Linked DNA regions of Homo sapiens: all the other regions are linked to region 2. The links come from fine-mapping of genetic effects on gene expression. A gene starts in region 2. Each other region holds a variant in brackets. All regions are shown on one strand. Distances are between the middles of the regions. Region 1 holds the start of SLC25A34 (solute carrier family 25 member 34). Region 2 holds the start of PLEKHM2 (pleckstrin homology and RUN domain containing M2). Region 3 overlaps DDI2 (DDI proteasomal shuttling factor 2).

The links. PIP is the estimated chance that this variant, and not a neighbour inherited with it, causes the effect.
Region 1: its variant is fine-mapped to the expression of PLEKHM2 in whole blood (TOPMed, PIP above 0.99).
Region 3: its variant is fine-mapped to the expression of PLEKHM2 in whole blood (TOPMed, PIP above 0.99).

What each region holds. Positions count from the first base shown.
Region 1 is chr1:15,729,913-15,738,069 of GRCh38, reverse strand. It overlaps PLEKHM2 (pleckstrin homology and RUN domain containing M2), which reads right to left. Exons shown (of 20, transcript NM_015164.4): 14 at 8,141-8,157; 15 at 7,348-7,538; 16 at 6,813-6,878; 17 at 6,022-6,181; 18 at 5,541-5,720; 19 at 5,342-5,458; 20 at 3,301-4,273. The coding sequence ends at 4,136. It overlaps SLC25A34 (solute carrier family 25 member 34), which reads right to left and starts at 1,812. Exons shown (of 5, transcript NM_207348.3): 1 at 1,207-1,812; 2 at 76-141. The coding sequence starts at 1,584. RefSeq lists enhancers at 1,946-2,712, 2,713-3,478. The variant C/T (reference allele first, on the strand shown) is at 4,440.
Region 2 is chr1:15,680,235-15,688,408 of GRCh38, reverse strand. PLEKHM2 (pleckstrin homology and RUN domain containing M2) reads right to left here and starts at 4,089. Exons shown (of 20, transcript NM_015164.4): 1 at 3,791-4,089. The coding sequence starts at 3,850. RefSeq lists enhancers at 3,106-3,165, 8,025-8,174 and silencers at 3,396-3,465, 3,986-4,065, 4,156-4,235.
Region 3 is chr1:15,636,737-15,644,910 of GRCh38, reverse strand. It overlaps DDI2 (DDI proteasomal shuttling factor 2), which reads right to left. Exons shown (of 10, transcript NM_032341.5): 5 at 6,477-6,604; 6 at 1,261-1,389. Among named protein-coding and RNA genes, the nearest start is that of RSC1A1, 19 kb to the left of the region's middle. The variant A/C (reference allele first, on the strand shown) is at 4,042.

The DNA.
Region 1 (8,157 bases), 50 kb before region 2:
ACTGGCCACCCCTGCCTAGGCTGGGAGCATGCCCAATCCATGCCCCCAGGGAGCTCTGAGAGTGGCAGGCCTCACCTGGTGATTGTGCTGGTGTCCCACGGCCACTGCGGCCACTGTCTGAGCTTGCAGCTGCGTTTTGATCTATGGGAGCAGAGAGGACACGGGTGTGGGGATGGAGCCTGGGAGAGCCAGGGTGAGCTGTGTGTGTTGAGGGCGCCCTGCCCCCGTGCCCCTGAAACTCACAGCTCCATGGTCCCGAGCCTGAAGCTTAGGGGTCAAGTGAAATAGGGTTGAGGTGCAGCTCTGGGGTTGGCCTGGGTTTTGCGTCTCAGTGTGACTTGGAGCAAGTTACTTAACCTTTTCTGGGCCTCAATTCTGTCACGGTTGGAAAGCTGTTCTGAGGATTAAGTGAGACAATGATCCTCCAGCACCAGCCAAGGGCAAGGCGAGCCTTTGCTCAAGGGGAGCTTTTTTTTTCTTTCTTTCCTTTTTTTTTTTTTGAGGCAGAGTCTTGCTGTGTTGCCCAGGCTGAAGTACAGTGCCATGATCTTGGCTCACTGCAAGCTCTGCCAACTGGGCTCAAGTGATTCTCCTGCCTCAGCCTCCCCGGTAGCTGGGATTACAGGCATGCATCACCACGCCCAGCTAATTTTTGTACTTTTTAGCAGAGACAGGGTTTCACCATGTTGACCATGCTGGTCTCAAACTCCTGACCTCAGGTGATCTGCCCGCCTCGGCCTCCCAAAGTGCTGGGATTACAGGCGTGAGCCACTGCACCCAGCCAAGGGTAGCTTTCTTCAAAACATTTTTTAATTTTTTATTTGTTTTGGGTGGCCCTGAGGCCCCCCTGCAGAGTGCACACGAGGCGGAGGCCCTCAAGGGTAGCTTTTATTCTTATCGTACATGAGGCCATGCGGGAAGAGAAGTAACCAAGCCAGGATTTGAGCCAGCACATCTGACACCCTCTGCCCCCTCCCCTGGCTCAGGACCAGTGGGGCAGGGACCGCAGGGGAGCATGGATCAGAGCAAGGCCCTGGGCCAAGGGGCAGATTCCAGGCTTGGGCTAGGATGTTCCAGGGAGCAGCCCCACCCCGGCTGCCCCACCCCACCCAGGTCCACTGAGCCCTGCCTTTGGAGGCTGCAGGGCCCCTGTGGGAGCTGGGTCATGGGATGGTGGAGGGTGGACGATGGAGACAAGCCACTCACCAGGTAAGCAGGGCTCCCCACGAAGGCTCCCAGTGCCCCCGCCACGGCTCCCGCAACCACGGTGCCACCTGGTTGCTGCGTGAGGCCAGCCTGGCACGCCAGGCTGTAGCAGTAGAAACGAACGCCATTCATGAGGCCTTGGTACAGAAGGCCGGCAGCCAGCCCCTTCTGCAGGCCCCACAGCCCGTCTGCTCGGGCCACAGCAGCGACAGAGGCTATGAAGCCATGGTAGGGCCGTGGGTAGGTGCCCCGGGCCTGCAGCTCCCCCTGCAGCTGCAGCCGCGTCTTCACCACCTCCAGGGGGTTGGTGAAGACACAGGCCAGGCAGCAGGCAGAAGCACCCAGCACCAGGTCCACTGCTGGGGGCACCGTCTCCATGGCCTCCGGGCCAGTGGCCTTCTGTGCCCGGGTCAGGGGCACGGCACAGGCCCTGTGGTGGTGGCGTTTAGGCTGTCTGTAACCTCGCAGGGCTACGGGGCTGGGGTTTGCAGGGGACCGAGGCCATGTCTAGAGGGTAAGGGTCCTGGTCTGACAGGCCTGTGGCTGCCTGGTGTCCCTGGTCTATCTCAGCAGTCCACCTGCTCTGCTCAGCTGTTCCAGCGGTCTGCCGGAGCCTGGGACGCGCCTCCGCCAGCTGCGACCAATCCCAGCTGCCTCTGTGCCCACACCTGCCAGCCGAGGGCGGGCCTGGACCCTGGGATCTGGGGGAAAGGTCACTTGGGACTGGAGGGAGAGCGTGGATAGGGAGAAGGTGCCAACCAGCCCAGGCACCTCCTCCTGGCCTCCCTCTGGCCCTGGGCAAAGGGCTGGCACCCCTGCCTTGCCTCTGGCTTAGCCTGTCCAGCTTTGGCAGAGCCCTAGGCAGGGGGCAAGTGACTGGGAGGTCCCTGGCATGGGGTACACGGCCAACTCCGCCCCTGCCCCACCCTGCCCCTGATATGCCCCTGGTGACTGACTTCCCCTTTCCAGGACTCAAGTCTTCAGTCTGGCTCCCACCGTCTATAGGCCCATGCTCAGCAGGGTCAGAAGTAGAGAAGGGCTCTGGAGCCCTGGGGAGCTGATTGGAATCCCAGGTGTGGCTCTCATGTGTGACCCCTGGGCAAGTCACTTCCTCTCAGAGCTTCAGTTTCTCTCATTTGTAAAATGGAGATACTGACATCCACTCCAGAAGGTTCTGTGGAGGACTGGCGATGAGAAGAGTGTGCCTAGGTCAGTGCTGCACCCGATAAAGGCACCCGCATCGCCTGCTCGCCCCCACCCCCACTGCCTCTGGCTCCTATGCCCCCCTCGCTGCTCCCAGGACTTCAGGGCACCTGGGTGAGTAGGACTTGAGGAGTGACCTTGGCTGGTAAGGACTTGCTGCCAGGCCTGCCCTGGGATGCCCTTTGTGCCCGCTGAGAAGAGAACGCCACCTGGGCCAGCTGTCAGGTGTGTCTGCTCAGGCTGGGGCCGGTACCAACATGCCCACCTTGGCCTCTGCCCCCAGACAGCTCTCTCCTGCCAGGCCACCCTCAGTCACCCAAGGCCCAGTCCAAACTAGAGGCAGAACCACCCAAGTTGGAGTCCCACACCCACCTCCCAGGGCCCACCCCTTCCCTCCCAGGCCCTTGAGGCAGCAATGCTGAGTGGCTTGAGGGCCTCAGGCTCCCGGCCTGGCAGGGTTGTCACCCTCTGGCCAGCCCTGGAGGGGACGGCGCAGCAAGAGGCAGCGAGGACAGCTTGGATTCTCCTGGGTTTGGGCACTCACCCCCGGGGCTGTGGAGGCAGGAGCGTCCTGCCCCGGGGTGGGCTGCAGATGGTGGGCGGCGGTGCAGACGTGCCCTGGGGCTTGAGCTGGTGGCTGCTCCTCCCCTGGCTGCTGCAGCAAACAGGAACAGGACGGAGGGCAAAGGTCGGGCCGAGAAACTCCCAGGGCCTGAGGGTCTGCAGACGGTGAGTCCGCCCGGCAGCGGTGGCTGATCTGGTTCTGCATGTCCCGTGTGTCCCTTGTGTCAGGCACAGGGCAGATGATGGAGGAAGGTTTGCAGAAAAGGGCCCAAGGGATTTGGAGAGCTCCCTTCCCCTACCCTGCTCAAAAAGGGCCAGTGACAAGCCTTGGCAATATAACATGTCTATTTTATTTTAAAAAACAAAACCCAAACCACCTGACCCCTTCCCCAGGAGGCTCTTGACGAAACTCTAGGGAAGGGCCTGGCTCCAGCCAAGCAGGGGACAGTCAGAAGATGTCAACATGGATGCCAGGCTGGTGGGCTCCGCCCTTCTCCAAGCCCCCCATCCACCCCCTTTGCTCCTCGGTGCTACAGGCACTGCCGGGTTGAGGGGACAGGCAGGGCAGGACTGTGGGCATGCAGAGCCTCCTGGCAGCCAGGGAGGGCTGCCCGCCCCCCTGCATCTGGCGAGGCAGGCAGCTGTGTGCGCAGTGATGGAGCTAGGAGGAGGAAACATGCGCAGACACCCCGTGTTCCCGCTTCCCCACGTGGCCAGGAGAGTGTTCAAACACGAACAAGGATGGCTGGGCACTCAGGGCCCCAGCCCCCAACCCAGGAGAGGAAGAGGGGGGTCCCGCCCTCCTGGTTCTTTTGTTCGTCCTTAGATGGATGGTGTTCTCGGTGCCACTCGGCAGAAATTCTGCAGACTGAGGCGGAGGCCCGGGAGGAGGGCGTGCATCCGCAGAGCCCACAGGGCTCGGACCCTCTGCCCCCAGCGACCTCCATTCGCTACCTGTCGGGCAGGATGCCCAGGGGTGCCGGGCACCTGATCTGGATCCCTGGAGTGGAGGGACCCTGTCTTAAGCCACACTCGGTGGTTCTGCCGCCCAGGGCAGGGGTGGACTGTAGGCTCCCGACAGCATGACAACAGCCGTGACAGTGTGCCTGCCGGCTGGCGTGCCTTCCTTTCCTGCCCACCAGGGACGCCAACCAGCTCTGCCTCAGCACCAGGGGTCTCGGGAGGCTCGGCCGCGGCAGAGACTGTCGCTCCGCTGCCAGGCGCTGTGGATGAGGCTCAAGGCATCCTCGAATTTCTTCTTGTTGGAGGCTTCCTGGATCGCCGTGTGGGGGAGGTCCACCTGTGTTGGGGCGTGCAGAGAACAGATGAGGGCCACTGAGGGCCACAGGAGTCTTCAGGGCTTGTGGGCACCAGGCCTGCCTCTGCCTTGGCCACGGAGCCCCTGTCAGGCCCTCCCCATCTCTCCCTGGGAACATCTTCCACGCTGCTAGTTTCTCCCGCTCTTC[C/T]AGGGGCTTGAGCTGAGGATGGGGTGGTGCCCCCCGAGCTCCCTCTTTCCTGGGAAGGCCCCAGCTCTCAGGATGGCCCAGCGAGGCAGGCGCTGCACTCTGTTTGGCTCTGCAGGGAGGTGTCTGTCCTGAGCTGTTCTCTGCCTCTAACTAGTCCAGGCTTCCACGGGGCTAGAGCGTAGCATGTGCTCAAAACCCGCTTGTGCAGGGCTCTCATGAGCACGCTCCCACACTGGCACTCAGCCTGGAGGGCAAGGAAGAGGGTACTGCCAATATTGTGTCCCCCCATCTGAGCACAGCTGGAGGTCCACCACAATTCGTGCTGTTTGATTGGAACTGAGGTCAGGAATTAAGCTTCTTGGGTTCTGTTTTCAGCTTTGGCCTCAGACTCACTGGGAGTCAGGGTTTTGTCCTTTTGATTCTAAGTTTTTGTGCCTGTCAGGTGTGTCTGCTCAGTCTGGGGCTGGCACCAACATGCCCACCTTGGCCTCTGCCCCCAGACAGCTCTCTCCTGCCAGGCCACCCTCAATCACCCAAGGCCCAGTCCAAACCAGAGGCAGAACCACCGGGGCTGGAGTCCCACACCCACCTCCCAGGGCCCACCCCTTCCCTCCCAGGCCCTTGAGGCAGCAATGCTGAGTGGCTTGAGGGCCTCGGGCTCCCAGCCTGGCAGGCTTGTGCGCAGCAAGAGACGGCAAGGACAGTGAGGACTCTTCTGGGTTTGTTTTAAGAGCAGCAGGCACTCACCCCCGGGGCTGAGGCAGGAGCGCCCTGGTACATGGCTGTGCCCAGGACCCTGGAGGCAGGGCCAAGTCCTGGGAGCAGCAGGGGTTCCTCTCCCCGGGGAGTGGCTCCCACTCCACAGGGTCCCTGGCTAATGGGTTTCCTGGGCAGCTGGGTACCTGATAGATGGTTTTCCACCCAGAGTTCAGTGCAGACAGCAATCGGTCCAGTTCAGAAGTGCAGCTCAGGTAGATGACCCAGGGCGGGAGGAGCTGCTGGCTGTCCTGGGAGAACTCCTAGGGAGAGCCAGGCCCCCGGGTGAGCAGCCAGAGCTTTCCTTCTGCAGGCCTTGCAGCCCCGCCCCCACTCAAAGCTCACCAAGACGCAGTACTCCTTGCCCGGCTCGGTGGAGACGGCGCTGATGTCGCCCAGCTTGGCTGTGCCCAAAGAGCGGAAGAAGCTGGTCTGGCAATCCTCATGGCACGTAAAGAGGCGGTCATCCGTGAGGACCAGGCAGCAGGGTATGCAGGGGCTGGGAGCTACGCCCTGGGGGATGACCTGGCAGCGGGGCAGGGGAGAGGCAGGCTGGGGCCTCCAGGGCTGGTCTGCACCAGAAGTCCACACTCCAGGGGACCAGCCAGCCCTTCTGCTCTCCCTCCAGGGATCTCCCTCCAGGGATCGGGAGCAGAGGCGGGGATGGGGGTGATGCCTCTGAGCTCCAGGGTCCATTCCTGGGCTGCCCCCTGGAGGTCCGTCTTGGCCCTCAGGTTGCTCTGTGACTATGGGTTTAGGGATGGGACCCTGGGGGTCTGGGTGGGTCAGGCAAGCCAGGTGAGCGGTAGGGGCAGGCGAAGCTCACCCCTTTGGACACAGCCTGGCAGAGATGCTGCATCCACTCGGCCATCTCGGCCTCGCTCTCGGCACTTAGCTCCAGGCAGGGCCGGTCGGAGAGAATGACCTGGAAGGCGTGGGGCCGATCCGTGGTGTTGGCTCTCCGGCAGCCACCGCACTGCTCCCCCCTGGGCCAGAGGAGGAGGGTGAAACGGGAGCGAGGAGGCAAGGGCAGCACGGGGCGACAGCCCCCAGGGTTGGTGCGGGGTGTGCGGCACAGGGTCTGCCCCACCGTCTTGGGGGCTGGAGGATACCAGAGGGTTCTCCAGGCCCCTCCAGCTCCCAGGAGAGGTCTGGGAGCCCCACCCACCGCCTTGCTGTGCGATGCCTTTCACCTCCAGGATGCCCAAGATCCTCTAGATACCCAAGCATGGCCAGGAGGGGTTGGGAATCAGCTGTCCCACTGGCCCTCTGAGAATCGGCCGCATTCATTCACGCATGCTTCCTCTTGAGGGCCTGCTGTTCCTCCCAAATACCCGAACGTCCATCTCCCATCAGGCCGGGAGCTTCTGGGGAAGGGCCTGCCTCCCCCATCAGACTGGACCTGTTCTAAGCCAGGAGCTCCTTGCTGCCTCCCTCCTCCCCTCCTGTGGGCTCCTTGCAGCCCTCAGAGCGTGGAAGCCCCAGGCCACCTGTCAGGGCCGCTGGATGGGGTGGGGTTGAGGGCGAGGCTGAACTGCCAACAGGGGCAGCCATCTCAAACCAGGGAAACGGCAGCTCTGGGCCCCAGGATACACCCGCTTCTCCCGGGACACTTACCCCATGTTCACCGAGAGCAGAGGGATGACGTCGGTGCGGTCCGGGTACTGGTAGAGGATCCCGTTGCTGCAGGGGCACAACACAGGGCGAGTGAGGCCTGTCCCAGGAACTGGGGCCAGGCGGAGCCCAGGTCCCAGGGTTCCCCTCCCACGCACATGCTGCGGCCATGAACCTGAGGCAAAGGACACCAGGGGCTGTCATCTACGGAAGGCAGGGTGAAGAAGGGCCTGGGGGCCCAGCAGGGAATGTGGCCACCTCAGCAGACCTGGGGCGCAGCTCAAGGTTCATCGGGGGACCAAGCCTGCATCCTCCCCTGAGGCACTCAGGGATTCCTGGGGCCCCAAAGATGACTGGCTCTACAGAGAAGCTCTAACAGCCTGAGCTAAGTCAACTCCAAGCTCTGGTAGGGAAGGGAGGCGTCCTCTCCTCAGGCTGCTCCCTCAGTGACCTGCTGCGGAGAGATCCCCGCTGGGGACCTGACAGCCCAGCCACCCCAGGGCCCAAGCCCCAGGCCTAGAGCTGCCAGGGCTCCCACCTGAGCACCACGAAGCACGTCTTCCAGTGTTCCTTGCCCAGGTAGGAGGTGCCCGCCTTGTAGTGCAGCATGCCTTCTTTGGTGATGGTGCCCTCGGGGGGTGAGCAGTGGCAGGGCGTGGGGCCCAGGGACTCGTCTGTGGGGTCCTCCCAGTGCACAAGGCCGTAGAAGCGCACGGTGACAGCAGATGCCTGATGCGGGGGCGGGCACGGGGGACAAAGCAAGTAAGGCCTGGGCCAGGCAGGTGGCTGAGCCCGGACTGGTTCTTTTTTTTTCTTTTTGAGATGGAGTCTCGCTCTGTCGCCCAGGCTGGACTGCAGTGGTGTGATCTCCACTCACTGCAACCTCCATCTTCCAGGTTCAAGCAATTCTCCTGCCTCAGCCTCCCAAGTAGCTGGGATTACAGGCGCCCATCACCACGCCTGGCTGAATTTTTGTATTTTTAGTAGAGACGGGGTTTTGCCATGTTGGCGAGGCGGGTCTCGAACTCCTGACCTCAGGTGATCCGCCTGCCTTGGCCTCCCAAAGTGCTGGGATTACAGGCGTGAGCCACTGTGCCCTGCCGAGCGAGGGTGTCTTAACCTTAGGACACACCCCAGGTAGGAAGGTGGACATGACTTTCCTCCCTTCCAGGGTGGGAAAGCCCCGCCCCGCCCCGCCCCGCCCCGCCCCGCCCAGGTAGGCGATTGTGAAATGGCAAAGACATCCACGTGCATCCCTTAACGCTCACGCCAAGGCGGCTGCTGCTCTGCCATCTCAGGGGCTGCACTCAGCTTCCTCCCCAGGTTCTTACCTCACACTTCGATTCTT
Region 2 (8,174 bases):
AAGTGCTGGGATTACAGGCGTGAGCCACCATGCCTGGCCTATTGTTATCATTTTCATTTAATCATGTTAATTATTAAACTCTCCAGTTCTCTCTCACCCTCAGGAATTCTGTGTCCATATCAGAACACAGGTTGCCTTGGATTCAGATGGATTAACAGCTGTTTCACCTGTCTGGTGTTATAATGGGTATTCACCATCACAAAATCTAAGTGTGAAAATAGTTGAACTCAACAATACTCCTTGGGGATAGTGGTTGCTTTGAGGGTGTAGTTTCTGGGAGGGGAACGAGGGGCCCTCTGGGATAATGGTCATGTTCTGTTTCTTGGTCAGGGTGCTGGATATGCAGGTGTTTTCACTTTGTGAGAACTCATTAAGCTGTCCGCTCAGGACCTGTACACTTTCCTGTAGGCATGCTTCATTTTCATAAAAAGTTCTAAAGTACTCTTTGCAAATATAGAAATACACAATGGATCTTTCCTTGCAGAAATATGCATCTCATTTTCTTCACGTAAAATCCTTATAAAATGACCAGTAAGACCATTTACTGGTGGTAGGATGCAAGAAAAAAGGCAAAGCAACTCTCAAGGTGCTATATAACACATTTAGGTGAGACTGGCATTCAAGGACAAATCTGACCCCAAGACTGCTGTCCTCAATGTCTACTGCTGTAGCCAAACTAACAGGTTCCTAGTAAAGCAGACACTCTGATTCAGAAAACCAAATGTAATTTATGATGCAAGAATCACATCGCAGTTGTCTCAAACAAACACACAAAGGAAGTGGCTACCAAGAACAAATGGTGTTGTAGAACGACCTTTAGGTGGTGAGGCAGTTGAGCCATCTTCAAACCTTGTAAAATTGAGGAATGGGCTCTTGCACAAAGAAAAAAGCTACCAGTTAAGACTGGGCCAGGATCCATGCTAAACACTCTACATGTTTATTAAAACTTCACCATGCCTGTAATCCCAGCACTTTGGGAGGCCGAGGTGAGCGGATCATGAGGTCAGGAGATCGAGACCATCCTGGCTAACACGGTGAAACCCCGTCTCTACTAAAAATACAAAAAAATTAGCCGGGCATAGTGGCGGGCGCCTGTAACCTGTAGTCCCAGCTACTCGGGAGGCTGAGGCAGGAGAATGGCGTGAACCTGAGAGACGGAGCTTGCAGCGAGCTGAGATCACGCCACTGCACTCCAGCCTGGGTGACAGAGCAAGACTCCATCTCAAAAAAAACAAAAAACAAAAAACAAACAAACAAAATCTTCATAACACAGCCTGACCAATATGGGCGAAATCCCATCTCTACAAAAAATACAAAAAGTAGTCGGGCACGGTGGCTCATGCCTGTAATCCCAGCACTTCGGGGGGCCAAGGCAGGCAGATCACTTGAGGTCAGGAGTTCAAGACCAGCCTGGCCAACATGGGGAAACCCCATCTCCACTAAAAATACAAAAATTAGACGCTGGGCGCCGTGGCTCACGCCTGTAATCCCAGCACTTTGGGAGGCCGAAGCGGGCAGATCACAAGGTGAGGAGATCGAGACCATCCCTGGTTAACATGGTGAAACCCCGTCTCTACTAAAAATACAAAAAAATTAGCCGGGCGTGGTGGCCGGCGCTTATAGTCCCAGCTACTTGGGAGGCTGAGGCAGGAGAATGGTGTGAACCCATGAGGCGGAGCTTGCACTGAGCGGAGATCAGGCCACTGCATTCTAACCTGGGCGACAGAGCGAGACTCCGTCTCAAAAAAAAAAAAAAAAAATTTAGCCGGGTGTGGTGGCGCACACCTGTAATCCCAGCTACTCGAGAGGCCGAGGCAGAAGAATCGCTTGAACCTGGGAGGTGGAGGTTGTAGTGAGCCGAGATCACACCACTGCCCTCCAGCCCAGGCAACAGAGCAAGACTCTGTCTCAAAAACAAACAACAACAACAACAACAACAAAAAAACACTCCACAACATCCCTAATTTTATCCCTGCTTTACAGATGAAGAAACTGGGCATGGAGAGGTTAATAAGCCTGACCAAGGTTACAGGGTTATTAATTTGGCAGGGCGGGGATTCAATCAGGCAGCTGGACTCCAGAATCCATGCTCCTAACAATGATGCTGCCCATGGCTTTGGTTGTGATACACCCAGGGATGGGTTTGCAGTTTCTAGTGTGACATTTTCTGGGGTGCATTCCAGCTCAATAAGTGTCCTTGTCCAAACACCTACAATTATATGCACCTCAACAAACACACCTAACTCATAAGTGACAGCCTGACTTACAAAGTGAATCTCTGCCTTCAAAAGACTCATGCTTATACATGTGACAGCGTGCCCCATGTCTACTGCCTCTCCATCACAGACTTTCTCCATTCATTTGTTTGAAATCCAAAGACAAACGCCGGGCCTACCTAAAGCCACAATCAGCCCAGATTAGATTAGAAAGGTCACCTGTGTTCCTTTCTCTTCCATTAGGAAAGATGTACTGCTTCTCAACAAAGTATTTGCTCATCCTGCCCTCCTTGAGTAAGCAAAAACCATACCCCATTACATTAGCAAAGCTCAGTAAAACTACGTAAAACTCTTGTTGGATCTCTGCAATGTTACTTTAGCTGTGCTTTTAGAGGAATGTTTTCAGTAAGGGCAATTCGAGAATCTATTTTCTTTTTAAGTCACATTTATCTTTATGAAAGGTAAAATAGCTTGCCTGTGTTGCTTTTGAGGAATCTCAGTGGGAAAACAGACAATTATTTAAATATGATGGTTGATCTAATTAATTCTATCCATTTTGCTTCTTCAAGTAAAATAAGCTGCTGAGTCCCTCACCCAAGCCATTTTCTTTCTCTTTTTTCTTTCTTTCTTTCTTTTTTTTTTTTTTTTTTTCAGTTTCTGAGACTATCTGGTGAGCCAGGAATTCAAATTACACAAACACACACACAGAGAGGGAGAGAGAGAGAAAAATCCATTCTGATTTGGCCATTTAGGTTTTCAGTGAATATGGATTCTTTTAAATTTATTATTATTATTTTTATATCCAGCCCAAAAACGTCAGAATATGGATTCTACCTTCTAGCACGGACCCTTTTGCGGATATGCCAACTTCATCACAAATACATGCCCTTGACAGGTATGTACTCATTTCTACCTGGAATTGGGACAGTGATGTTTACTGCGGCAAGCCCCACAGCAAGGTGTCTGTGGTGTCACCCGGTTCCCCGGATCAGCATCCAAAATGCAATCCCCATGTACTTCAGGTTCTTATAATCAAAGCCCCTAGTGAACCTCTTCAAAGCTACCATCCTTGAGCAAGATTATTCAGGGGACTTCCCAGGAGCAGAGGCAATGTCGCCGGGACCCAGGCCATGGGAAAGTGAAGTTGCTTATCACTGGCCTCCACCCTGACTGCCAGACCCTGGGCGACGCCAGCCTGGCGGGGGGACCCGGGGATGCAGCGGATTCCACAGGAGGCTGCATGGGGTTCCTTCAGGAGCTCCCGGGGGCGCCGCTGCCCCAGTGGGGGACCGGAGGGTCGCTGACCCCTCTCCGGGAGGGCAGGGCCCCGGGCCAGGTTTGGGGAAGCTCCGAGGATGCTGACCTCAACTTTGTTCTTTAAAAATAGCTCCGAGGCCGCGGCGCTCACGTGAGCGGCGCCGCTTCCCCTCTACCGGCCCGGGGCTCCCGGCCGCTCGTCGCCCCCCGGGTCGCGGAGGGGAAGGGCGGGGGGCCCCGGCCCGGGAGAGCGCCGCCGGAGGGCGTGGGGGGCGCGGCGAGGAAGGGGCCCCGGCCGGGAGGGAGGCCGCGCTCACCTTCTTCACCGACAGCGAGATGTTCTCCAGGATCCGGTCCTTCACCTCCCCCGGCTCCATGGCGCTGCCACCGTCGCCGCCACCGCCACCGCCACCGCCGCCGCCGCCCCGCCGCCGCTTCCCGCGCCGGGGGCCGGGGGCCGCCGCCAACCGCTGCCGCCGGCCGTACGGGGGCTCCGTCGTGCCGGCCGCGGGGCCCGGCGCCCGCCGCCCGGCCCTCGCCTCGCCTGGGCCCTCGCTCCACCGCGGCCCGGAGGCTCCGGAGCGCGGCCGGCGGGGAAGGAGGCCGCGGGCTGTGCGCCGCGGCGGCGGCGGCGGCAGGAACTGATGTCAGGCGGGGCGGCGCCAGGGCCCGCCTGCGCCTGGGGACTCCGGGGACCCGGAGACCCGCACAGACCCTTGGCCGCGGCCCTCCCCAGAGACCCCGAGACCCGCCCCCAGCCCTCCTCAAGTCACAGACTCTCCCCGGCACCCCAGAGACACCCTCAGACCCCAGGGACGCCAGAGACCTCGACCCCGCCTGCCGGGGACCTCGGGGCTCCTCAGAGACCCTCCCCAAGCCCTCCTCAGCCCACAGATTCCTTCAGGGACCCCAGAGACACCCTCAGACCCCAGGGACTCCGGACACCCCGACCCCGCCTGCCAGAGACCCCCACAGACCCTGGGACCCCGGCCCTCCTCGGAGACCCTCCCCCAGGCCTCGTCAGCCCACAGATTCCCTCAGGGACCCCAGAGACACCCTCAGACCCCAGGAACTCCGGAGACCCCGACCCCGCCTGCCCGGGACACCGGCCCTCCTCAGAGACCCTGGAGACCCTCCCCCTCAGCCCTCAGGCCATAGACTCCCCCCTGGGACCTCAGAGACACCCTCAGACTCCAGGGACTCCGGAGACCCCAACCCCACCTGCTGGGGACCCCCACAGACCCTGGGCCCCCAGCCCTCCTCAGAGACCCCCAAAGACCCCGAGGCACTGGCCCTCCCCAGAGACCCTGAGACCCTCCCCACAGCCCTCCTCAGCCCACAGGATCCCCCCACAAAACCCCAGAGACTCCCACAGGCCCCAAGGACTCTGGAGACTCCGACCCCACAGGCCAGAGACCCCCACAGACCCTGAGACCCCGGCCCTCCTCAGAGACTCGAGACACCCACAGACCCTGGGCCCCCTCCCGCCGGCCCTCTTTAGTCCACAGACCCCTCCTTGGAGACCCCAGTGCACCCCACTAACTCTGGCCAGGGACCCCAAGACCCTCTTAGCCTGCAAGCCCCACTTATCTTCCTCCCCTTCCTTAGCCCAGCCACCCCCTCAATGTGCAGACCCAGGCCCCCTGGCTTTCGCAGCCTGGAGGACCCAGCACCCCCACCGGGTCAGCCTAGACTCCAGTCCCCAGCCCTAGACCCTCCCTGGGCCCCCTGGCCCTCCACAGCCTCCCCTCCTCAGTGCCTCACCCTCAAGGCCCAGTCCTACATTTGAGGTCCCTGGTGTTCCTCCCCACCCCCAAAACACACCCTCCTCACCTTCAGCCCCAATGCCCCATTCCCACTCCTTATCCTTATCCCTCTTCTTCAGCCCCACGTATCCCAAGGGCCTCAACTCCCTCAGCCCCTGAAACCCACCGTAACAACTCTCTTCCCACACACCCTCCTCAAATCCACCATCTCATAAAGCCCCTGCACTTAGAGGTGTCAGTCTCCTACCTGGCTCTCTTCCCTCCTTAAGTTCCCAAATAAATATATCCTGACACATAGATTAGTCCCTCCTTTTTATTCTCAGACACCCCAGTTCTCAACTCTGGTTCCCTGGTCTTCCCTCTTCTCTGCTCAGGCCACCCCATCCCTGAAGTCCCCTTAGCATCTGAAATACTGATTCATTGCTTATCTCAGAGGGACCCCACAAGCCTCCAAAGGTCGCTCCCCAGCCCCTTAGTTTCCCAAGGAGAGACCCAAAATAGTGGTACTTTGTTTTTTGTTTTTTTTGTTTTGTTTTGTTTTGTTTGTTTTTGAGACAGAGCCTTGCTCTGTTCCCCAGGCTGGAATGCGGTGGTGCGATCTCTGCTCACTGCAACTTCCGCTTCCCAGCTTTAAGCGATTCTCCTGCCTCAGCCTCCCGAGTAGCTGGGACTACAAGTGCATGTGACACCATGCCCAGCTAATTTTTTTTTTTTTTTTTGAGGCGGAGTCTCGCTCTGTCACCCAGGCCGGAGTGCGGTGGCACAATTTCAGCTCACTGCAACTTCCTCCTCCCAGGTTCAAGTGATTCTCCTGTCTCAGCCTCCCCAGTAGCTGGGATTACGGGCGCCTGCCACCACGCCCAGCTAATTTTTTTGTATTTTTAGTAGAGACGGGGTTTCGCCATGTTGGCCAGGCTGGTCTTGAACTCCTGACCTCAGGTGATCTGCCCGCCTTGGCCTTAAATTATTTTTTAAAGACAGGGTCTCACTCTGTCACCCAGGCTGGAGTGCAGTGGTGGGTGTGATCATAGCTCACTGTAGCTTGAACTCCCTGGGGGATCCTCCCACGTCAGCCTCCCCAGTAGCTGAGAGTACAGAATAAAATACGCCCAGCGAATTTTATTTTTTGTAGAGACAGGGCCTCGCTCTGTTACCCAGGCTGGTCTTGAACTCCTGAGCTCAGGCCATCCTCTTACCTCAGCCTCCCAAAGGGCTGGGATTACGGGCATGAGCCATCATGTCCAGCCCAGGGCGTTTTCTTATTTGTACTGAGTTCAGGAAAGCAAGAGATAACAGCCTCTTTGGAGTTGTTATCTACCTCTCATATTCAGAGAGCAGAATAAGAACAGATGAGGGTTGAGACTCCAGTCACTGGATAGGTAGAGAAAAGGTTGAGGACAGAGGACACATTACTTTGAATGAGGAAATAAATAGCCAGGTATCTATGAGTAGAAATAGCCTCCTACTTACCAAAGGTGTTTGTGGAGTCAGAATTGCGCACTTCCTTCCCACTCCATCCTGGCTAGGGTGCATACAGGCCCCAACCTGCTGGATGCAGCTCTGGTTCATGAAAATGCAGTCCCCCAAAACTGACCCAACAAGCTTTGGGATTCTTCTCTGCTGTTGAATAGCAGGCCATCTTCTGCTGAGCACTGCGTTCTGCTGGGCACCTCCTCCCTAGGAATGGCTGATCATGGCTTGGGCACATGGTACACTCAGTGGGTATTTTTATTCCTTGGCTGTATGCCTGGGGCGTCCACTTGGTCTGTGACATAAGAAGGTGGTGGCATTTCTGCCATATTGTTTTTATCTGCATGTATTGGGAGATGGTCACATTCAGCATTTTACAACATTCAGAGGAATGTAAGGTCTCACTGTCTACCAAATTCCTAAGGTTTGCATAGGTATGTGAGCTGGTACAACAGACATTGTTATCTAACAACACTTCTTGCAGGAAAGAGGGAGAGGCCAAATGTGCATTGATGTGCAGCTAATTGCTCCTTGTCCAGAGTTCAAATATGGAATCCGTTCTGCGTGTCAAACACAGGGCGAGCCGGGCATGGTGGTGCATGTCTATAGCCTCAGCTGCTTTGGAGGCTGAAGAGGGAGGATCTCTTGAGCTCATGTGGCTGCACTCCAGCCTGGGTGACAGAGCAAGACTTCACCTCTTAAAAAACCCCAAAAAGCAAACCAAAAAAAAAAGGGTGACTCTGAAAAACACAAGATACTTATTTGTTATTGGGAGTCACTTAAGCTGGAAATTGAAGCTCATTCATTTATTGCACAAGACTTTTCTGATCTCATGAGAAGTGCATGGGACTCTGAGTCAAAAGGCAACAAGAATTAAAAGCCTCAACTGACTCATGCTAGGGCCTCAGGCAAGTCACTTTGCCTTAATTTCCAAATCAGTGACCCAGGAAAAATGATTCTATTCTTATTTTTTGTTGTTGTTGTTTTTTGAGATGGAGTTTTACTCTGTCGCCCAGGCTGGAGTGCAGTGGCTCCATCTTGGCTCACTGCAACCTCCGCCCCCCCCGGGTTCAAGTGAGTCTCCTGCCTCAGTTTCCCAAGTAGCTGGGATTACAGATTCCTGCCACTGCACCTGGCTAATTTTTGTATTTTTAGTAGAGTTGGGGTTTCACCATCTTGGCCAGGCTGGTCTCGAGCTCTTGACCTCATGATCCACCTGCCTCAGCCTCCTAAAGTGCTGGGATTACAGGTGTGAGTCACCGCGCCCAGCCTGTTGTTTTCTGAGACAGAGTCTCGCTCTGTCACCCAGGCTGGAGCGCAGTGGCGTGTTCTCAGCTGACTGCAGCCTCTGCCTACTGTCATAGCATTTAGAATACAGTCCATACTCTTTTCTCTGGCTTCCAAGGCTGATCTGATCCAGCCTCCCTCCCTGACTCATCTCCTAACTCTCCGCTGGTGTGTGCCA
Region 3 (8,174 bases), 43 kb after region 2:
TCAAAAAAACAGAAAAGAGGCCGGGAGCGGTGGCTCACGCCTGTAATCCCAGCACTTTGGGAGGCCGAGGCGGGCGGATCACGAGGTCAGGAGATGGAGACCACCCTGGCTAACACGGTGAAACCCCGTCTCTACTAAAAATACAAAAAATTAGCCGGGTGCGGTGGCGGGCGCCTGTAGTCCCAGCTACTCAGGAGGCTGAGGTAGGAGAATGGTGTGAACCCAGGAGGCGGAGCTTGCAGTGAGCCGAGATAGCGCCACTGCACTCCAGCCTGGGCGACAGAGTGAGACTCCGTCTCAAAAAAAAAAAAAAAAAAAAAAAACAAAAAAAACTGAAAAGAAAAAGAAAACTTTCACATAAAGGATCAAGAATCGGAACAGAATCCAGCCTCACTACAGCAACACTGACAGTGAAAAGGTTAAGGGGCAATGCCTCGAAATTGTGAAGGAAAATGATTTCCAACCTAGGCAGACCAGTATAATGTAGGGAAAAAAGACATGTCTGATAATTAGTCTCAATTTACTCCCATGCACCTCTTCTAAGAAAGTTACTGGATGATGCACTCCAATAAACTGAGGGGCAGATAAAAAAGAGGAAGACAAGGGATTCATGTAATCCAACACAAGACAGAAGAGAAAGGAATCTGTAGGACTCAGTCAAGTTAAATTCCAAAACAGCAGCTCTGAAGCAGGCCTGAAACTGCCAGTCCAGGCTCAAGAAGTATCTTTGATAGGATGAAATGTAGAGGCTATTGGATGTGCTTGAAGGGAGATTTACATAATTAGGAAATGTCTGGGATGAATACTACGCAAGAAACCAAGTAAGAAAAACAGGACAATTATTAATTCTAAGAGAAAATAATACTAGCCATGAAAGAAAAGCAATCACATTCAATTAGATAGCTCAGCTCTCAAACACAGTCATATGAGTAAACAGCAAAATAAACATGTTATTTAGAAATATGGAGGTAAGTATAAAAATAAATCAGCTAAAATGACGGAAAGGGATTATATTTTCAGGAAATAGAAACGTAGAGGAGACTACTTGTTTGCAACCAGCAGAAACACATAACTTTGACGGAACACAGGATTTAAAACTTCTAGAAATTAGGCTTGCTAGCTCAGACATACCCACACAAAAGAAATTTAAAACAACAACAACAAAATAACAACAAAAGACCCTCTAAAAACTTGAAAATCGACTACCCTACCTACAAATAGCCTACAGAAAGACAGCAAGCCCCAGTGCCTTTTGCTCACCTAGATGTACCCTTCCAATAATCTTCTGGGTGCCCACTCCTTTGGCAATCCCTGCCCACCGACGGTCCACCAGTCTCATTATGTTACACCTTTCTGCACAAGCTTGGCTCATGATAGTCATCTGGGCACCTGGAGGAGTAGAGAAACATCAGACAATAAAAACAAAATCCACTTTGTGAGAAGACTCAAAATATAGCACTAAATAATAACAAAGCGAAAACCAAGCACACCCCAAGGCTTTGGTCTCTATAAACTCATTTCTACCTAGCAAGTGCCCTGCCTGCCTAATTCAACTTTCAGTTCTACTCTGTAATCTGAAACATGATGTACAATTTGACATTGAGGGAAGAATATTCTGTAGCGATGCAATAATTAAATGACATTTTAAGACTTTACCAGTAGAAAGCAGTGATGTCCTGCGTCTACAGATGGCAATGCTAAATTAGCAGTACTTTGCACTTCTTACCGAGTATCTCTAAGCCGTCGCCTCCTGGCTTCAAACGATTCTCCTGCGTCAGCCTCCTGAGTACCTGGGATTGACAGGCTTGCGCCATCATGTCCAGCTAATGTTTTTTTTTTTGTTGTTGAGACAGTCTCGCTCTGTCGCCCAGGCTGAAGTGCAGTGGCGCAGTCTCAGCTCACTACAAGCTCCACCTCCCGGGTTCACACCATTCTCCTGCCTCAGCCTCCCAAGTAGCTGCGACTACAGTTGCCCACCACCACACCCGGCTAATTTTTTGTATTTTTAGTAGAGGTGGGGTTTCACTGTGTTAGCCAGGATGGTCTCGATCTCCTGACTTCGTGATCCACCTGCCTCGGCCTCCCAAAGTGCTGGGATTACAGGCGTGAGCCACTGCACCCGGCACGTCCAGCTAATTTTTGTATTTTTAGTAGAGATGGGGTTTTACCACGTTGGCCAGGCTGGTCTGGAACTCCTCACCTCAAGTGATCTGCCCACCTCAGCTTCCCAAAGTGTTGGGATTACAGGTGTGAGCCACAGTGTCTGGCCCTATCAAGTTGTTTTTATATCAAATTTTGGGCTGGGTGTAGTGGCTCATGCCTGTAATCGTACTTCAGGAGGCCAAGACGGGAGGATCACCTGAGCCAAGGAGTGGAAAACCAGCTTGGGCAACATAGCAATATCCCGTCTCACTATGTAAACAAGTAAGTACATTATTTACTACTTTATCTGCTCAAAAAGTAAAATTAAAAACAAAAACCCCACACTGGGACACTATAGTCTACTATTAATAAATCATGCAGTCTTCCAAAATTTAGAAGTGGACTCCCATACTCTGCTCCAACAATCAGACTCTCTTCCCTTTAAATATGAGGGCACTTAGGTTATTTTCTCTCCCAGAAACATGTACACGGCGGGTTGGCCTATGTAGAAGACAGTCGCTTCTGTAATCTTTACAGTCCTAATTTCTCCCTGAAACTCTAGTTCTACATTCTTGTGCACTGGACATTTCTGTCAAAGCCAACAGGCATAAAACTCTTTCTCCCCAAATAATTCTCACTTTGGATTTCTCTGTGTTTGCCAATGGGATTATTTTCTTGCAGCCATAAAACCTGGGCACTGTTCACTTTTGACTCTTCTCCTAGTCTTTCTTCTCTCAAACCTGTAAATAAGGTCTATGCAATTTCTGCTATTTCTGATGCCCTTTCTTCTCCTTTTTTTTTTTTTTTTTTTTTGAGACTGAATTTCACTCTTGTTGCCCAGGCTGGAGTGTAATGGTGCAATCTCGGCTCACTGCAAGCTCCACCTCCTGGGTTCAAGCGATTCTCCTGCCTCAGCCTCCCGAGTAGCTGGGATTACATGCAAGTGCCACCATGCCCGGCTATTTTTTGTATTTTTAGTAGAGATGGGGCTTCAGCATGTTGGCCAGGCTGGTCTTGAACTCCTGACCTCAGGTGATCCACCTGCCTTGGCCTCCCAAAGTGCTGGGATTACAGGTTTGAGCCACTGTGCCTGTCCTGATGCTCTTTCTTCTAACCATAGTGATCAGCCTGGCTCACACTGCCATTCCCTTGCAAAAGGACAATTGTTCTGGCTTCCAAACCACTCCGTGGATGCGTAATTTAAAGCAAGGATATTGTTGTGACCCTTAGGGGTACAGAATTTTCCAGATCTGTGTCTACCTTTAGTTTTCCTAAAATGTCACTTTTTTTTTTTTTGGAAACACAGTCTTGCTCTGTTGCCCAGGCTGGAGTGCAGTAATGTGATCTCAGCCCACTGCAATCTCTGCCTCCCAGGTTCAGGCTATTGTCCTGCCTCAGCCTCCTAAGTAGCTGGGATTACAGGTGTGCCACCATCATGCCTGGCTGATTTTGTGTTTTTAATAGACATGGGGTTTCACCATGTTGGCCAGGCTGGTCTTGAACTCCTGACCTCAAATGGTCTACCCGCCTCAGCCTCCCAACGTGCTGGGATTACAGGTTTGAGCCACTGCACTGGGCCAATAGCACCATTTTCAAATCACTTACTTCTTCATCTGCTTAAAAGTCCTCAATGGTTTCCACTCCTTATGAGATTAGTTTCAAACCACCATCACCACAGCTTCAGATCCCACCCCATCCTGGCTCCACCATTTCTTTCCAGCCGTACATTCTAACTACTCTAAACCCTCTGCTTCAGCAGGAGGAATATGTCCCCTTTGCCATTCACTCACTTTGACCCTCCTGTAAAATGGTCCCTGCCCTGCTTTTTTTCCTGAATTCCACCGATGCTTCAAGATCTAGCTCAAGACCCACTTCCTCCCTAACTGACTGCCCTTTTGC[A/C]ATGACCTCGCCTCTCACTCAATTCCAACACTTCCTGCTCATATTACTCACAGGTACCCTACACTTTATAAGTAATAAAAGTTCTTGGCATTTGAGAAAGATTAGATTCAAAAAGGCCCAGAAATAATGAAGGAAAAGGGAATTTGGAAAGGCAATTCTCTCTTTTCTTCCTCCTTCTTAATTTACAAAAGCCAAGTTATTAAAGTAAGCAACCCAGGATGAGAAGGGCCCCTTTCACTGCTCTCCTGCATTTTCCAAAGCCTCAGCTCAAATGCTGTCTTCTGGAAAGACTCTCCTGAGCACCTCGGTCAGAGTGAGAATGTGGTCTCTACAGCCATCCAACATTCACCTGATTTTTGCACAGTGGTTGAGATTTCTGGCATCAAGGGGACCTGGGGCTGAATCCAAAGCCCACCACTCACGAACTCTGTATACCTGGAAGCGTGACTTGATCCCTCTAAGTTTCCTTATGTGTAAAAGACAGAGTAGAGAATGTGACCTCTCTATATCTAAGTTTTCTTATGGATAAAACAGGAATTATAGAACAAAGTACATAGAGATATTCTGAGGATGAAATAAAATTGAGTAAGATGATTATATTAAGCACCTAGCATGGTGCTTGGCACACAATAAGGAATCAATACACACTGAGTATTCTATTAGCGTCTTCTATGTATTTGTCTCTCACTCACACGGGGACCTCTGAGGCTCCAGTCACTAAGTCTTATCACCAAGCACTCAGCACAAGGCCCTACCCACAACAGATATTTTTTAAACTGAATAATTTCAGTTTTTTTTTAAACTCCCAGGAATGTCTGTATCTCAAGATACAAACTCTTTTTTTTTTTTCCCCCGAAGGCAGGGTCTCACTCACCCAGGCTGGGGCACAGTGGCACAATCACAGCTCACTGCAAGCCCTGACCTCTGCCGTCACCACAGGCTCAGGTGATCTTCCCACCTCAGCCTCCCCCGTAGCTGGGACTATAGGTACGCACCACCACACCCGGCTAATTTTTGTATTTTTTGTAGAGGCGAGGTTTCCCCATGTTGCCTAGGCTGGTCTCAAAACTCCTGGGCTCAAGCAATTCTCCCACCTCACCCTCCCAAAATGCTGGAATTACAGGTATGAGCCACTACACCCAGTCTCAAGGTACAAACTCTTAATGAGAGTTGAGGCCAGGAGTTCCCAATCAGCCTACACAATACAGGGGAACCCTGTCTCTACAAAAAGTTAAAAAATCAGCCAGGTATGGTTGCACATGCCTGTGGTTCCAGCTACTTGAGAGGCTGAGGCTGGAGGATCACTTGAGCCCAGGAGTTGGAGGCTGAAGTGAGCTGACTGCACCACTGCACTCTAGCCTGGGTGACAGAGACCCTCTCTTTAAAAAATGAGAGAGAGAGAGCTGAAACCCAGCATGTGCTCAGGAATGTGTAGATGAACAAATGAAAGAAAATACTTTTTTTCTTTTTATATAGAAATACACAGTGAAGGGGGAAAATATTATTTGAGCAAGGAATTTTTCTACTCTAGGAACTCACCTATCTTACAGCCTTGAGTGAGACAACCCAGAATTAAGATGTATGAGACCACTCAGTCATACACCCACAAAATGCTGCATGGTGTAGTCTTACTAAAAAGCAAACGGTTGTTACTGACAGAAAAGGTGCCAACTAGTATGTGAATTAACTGAACCCTCAAGCAGAAGAATCCCTGTCTCCTTACTTGGTTGTTAAGTTCTTTAAGGGTAAGAACCATACCCAGATAGCCTTACACTCCTCCCAAATCTTGGCAAAGTGCTGGTGCACAGGCCAGGCTGAAATGTGTTTGACCTATACTCTACACAGCTCCTTTTATAGCTCCTTCTTCTAAACCTATGTATTCCCAGTTTTTTACAGAAACATCCAAGAAATTCAGGATGCTAGATAAGGGGAGTTAGGAAGAAAAAGGAGACACCACAAAATACAAAACTGGTTAAGAAATGATTAAAGAAAGAAACCTAATACCAACAGAATGCCTCGCAAGTGAAACAGTAAGTCCCACGCTAGTGAGTTAGCAGCCTAAAGAACTACAGCCATCTGGGCCAGGCACGGTGGATCACTTGAGGTCAGGAGTTCAAGACCAGCCTGACCAACACGGTGAAACCCCATCTCTACTAAAAATGTAAAAATCAGCTGGGCGTGGTGGTTGGCGCCTGTAATCCCAGCTACGTGGGAGGCCGAGGCTGGAGAATCGCTTGAACTGAGGAGACAGAGGTTGCAGTGAGCCAAGATCACGCCACTGCACTTTGGCCTGGGTGACAGAGCAAGACTCTGTCTCAAAAAAAAAAAAAAAAAAAAAAGTACAGCCATCTGAACGGATGCTTGAGCCTCCCCTTCTCCCGTGTCAGGTAAAGATGTTGGAGGGGAGACCAAGAAATAAAAGACAGAGACGTCACCTGAGTCAACAAAGGCTTTCACAGGATGTCCATTCACTTTGCAGTTAATATAAAGCATCACTACTTGGCCAAAACTTTCCGGAGCCTCTTCCATAGCTATTGTCATGTTTTCCTCAATGTTCTGTTGCCTGTAACAGAACAAGACCAGGGACACTGAAAGCATTAATTCCATGGAGAGAAATCAGTTTCAAAGTCACAATATTAAAAAACAGATTTGTACATATCTTTTGCCCCAAGCACAGCAGCCGAGTCATAGAAAAATTGGTGCTATATGGGGCAAGAGATCATTTCCAAAGAGGCAGTAAGATGAACAGCTGGCAGAAAATCTAAAGGCATAAAAATTACCCTTTGTAAAACACTAAGCCGCCTTTCTATGCTCAGAAATAAGAAACTGGAGAGCAAGGGTTACAACCCCATTTTTCTGGCAGAATGTTAGAATTTCGGGAATGTTCCAATTTTAACTGAGGATTTACTGGGTATCTGAATACATTTCCTAAGCCCAGAACATTACAAAAAGTTCACAAACAGAAAACACAAATATTTCAACGTCTTGTGCTGCATCTGCTGCTTCATCTCCAGGACTGGGTTTTCTAATCTGTACACTAAGGATAACTGTTACCTAGGTTGCCAAGAGGTACAAAGCATCTAGTATACAGTGCTCATATAACAGCTTATGCTACAAAAAAATTGCACCCATCACTTAAAACTACATGTGTTTCATAGTTCATTTGATCCATGAAATAATTTGTTTAAAAATTCAACATGCTGGCCGCACACGGTGGCTCACGCCTGTAATCCCAACACTTTGGGAGGCCAAGGCGGGTGGATCACCGGAGGTCAGGAGTTCAAGACCAGTCTGGCCAACATGGTGAAACCCCATCTCTACTAATAATACAAAAACTAGCCGGGCATGGTGGCATGCACCTGTAATCCCAGCTACTCAGGAGGCTGAGGCAGTAGAACTGCTTGAACCCGGGGGGCGGAGGTTGCAGCCAAGATCGCACGACTACACTCCAGCCTGAGCGACAGAGCGAGACACCAAAAACAAAAAAAATCAACATGCCAGGTGCAGTGGTTCACACCTGTAGTCCCAGCACTTTCTTTGGAAGGCCAAAGTAGGTGGATCCCTTGAGCTCAGGAGTTTGAGCTCAGGAGTTTCAAACCAGCCCGGGCAACATGGTGAAACCCCATCTCTCCCCACCAAAAGGAAGGAAAAGAAAACAAAAAAATCAACACAACTCTAATTCTTACACGAGAAAAGCAACAAAAGGGAGTTCTTGCTTACTCCAACATCTCATGTTTATTCCCAATTTTTTTCTACTCCCTTAAAACAGCATGAATCAATCTCCTTTTAAAAACATTATCAAATACTACCAACATTAATGGAAACTAGGTCAGCGGTTGGGCAACTTACCTGAAGACTGAGACACTAACAGAACAGCTTCTAAGATTTGGGATAACCTACACTGTAAATCCAGGGTTGGTAAATCATAGCCTGCTGTTTAGGCAAAAAAAGTTTTATGGAAACACAGTGATATAGTGCATTTACATATTGTCCTATTGTCTATGGCTGCTTTCACATGGCAGTGGCGGAGCTGAACATGAGCAACACAGATTGTATGGTTTGCAAAGACTAAAATATTTACTATCTGCCCATTTATAGAAAGTCCACTAAGGCCTGGCACAGCAGCTCATGCC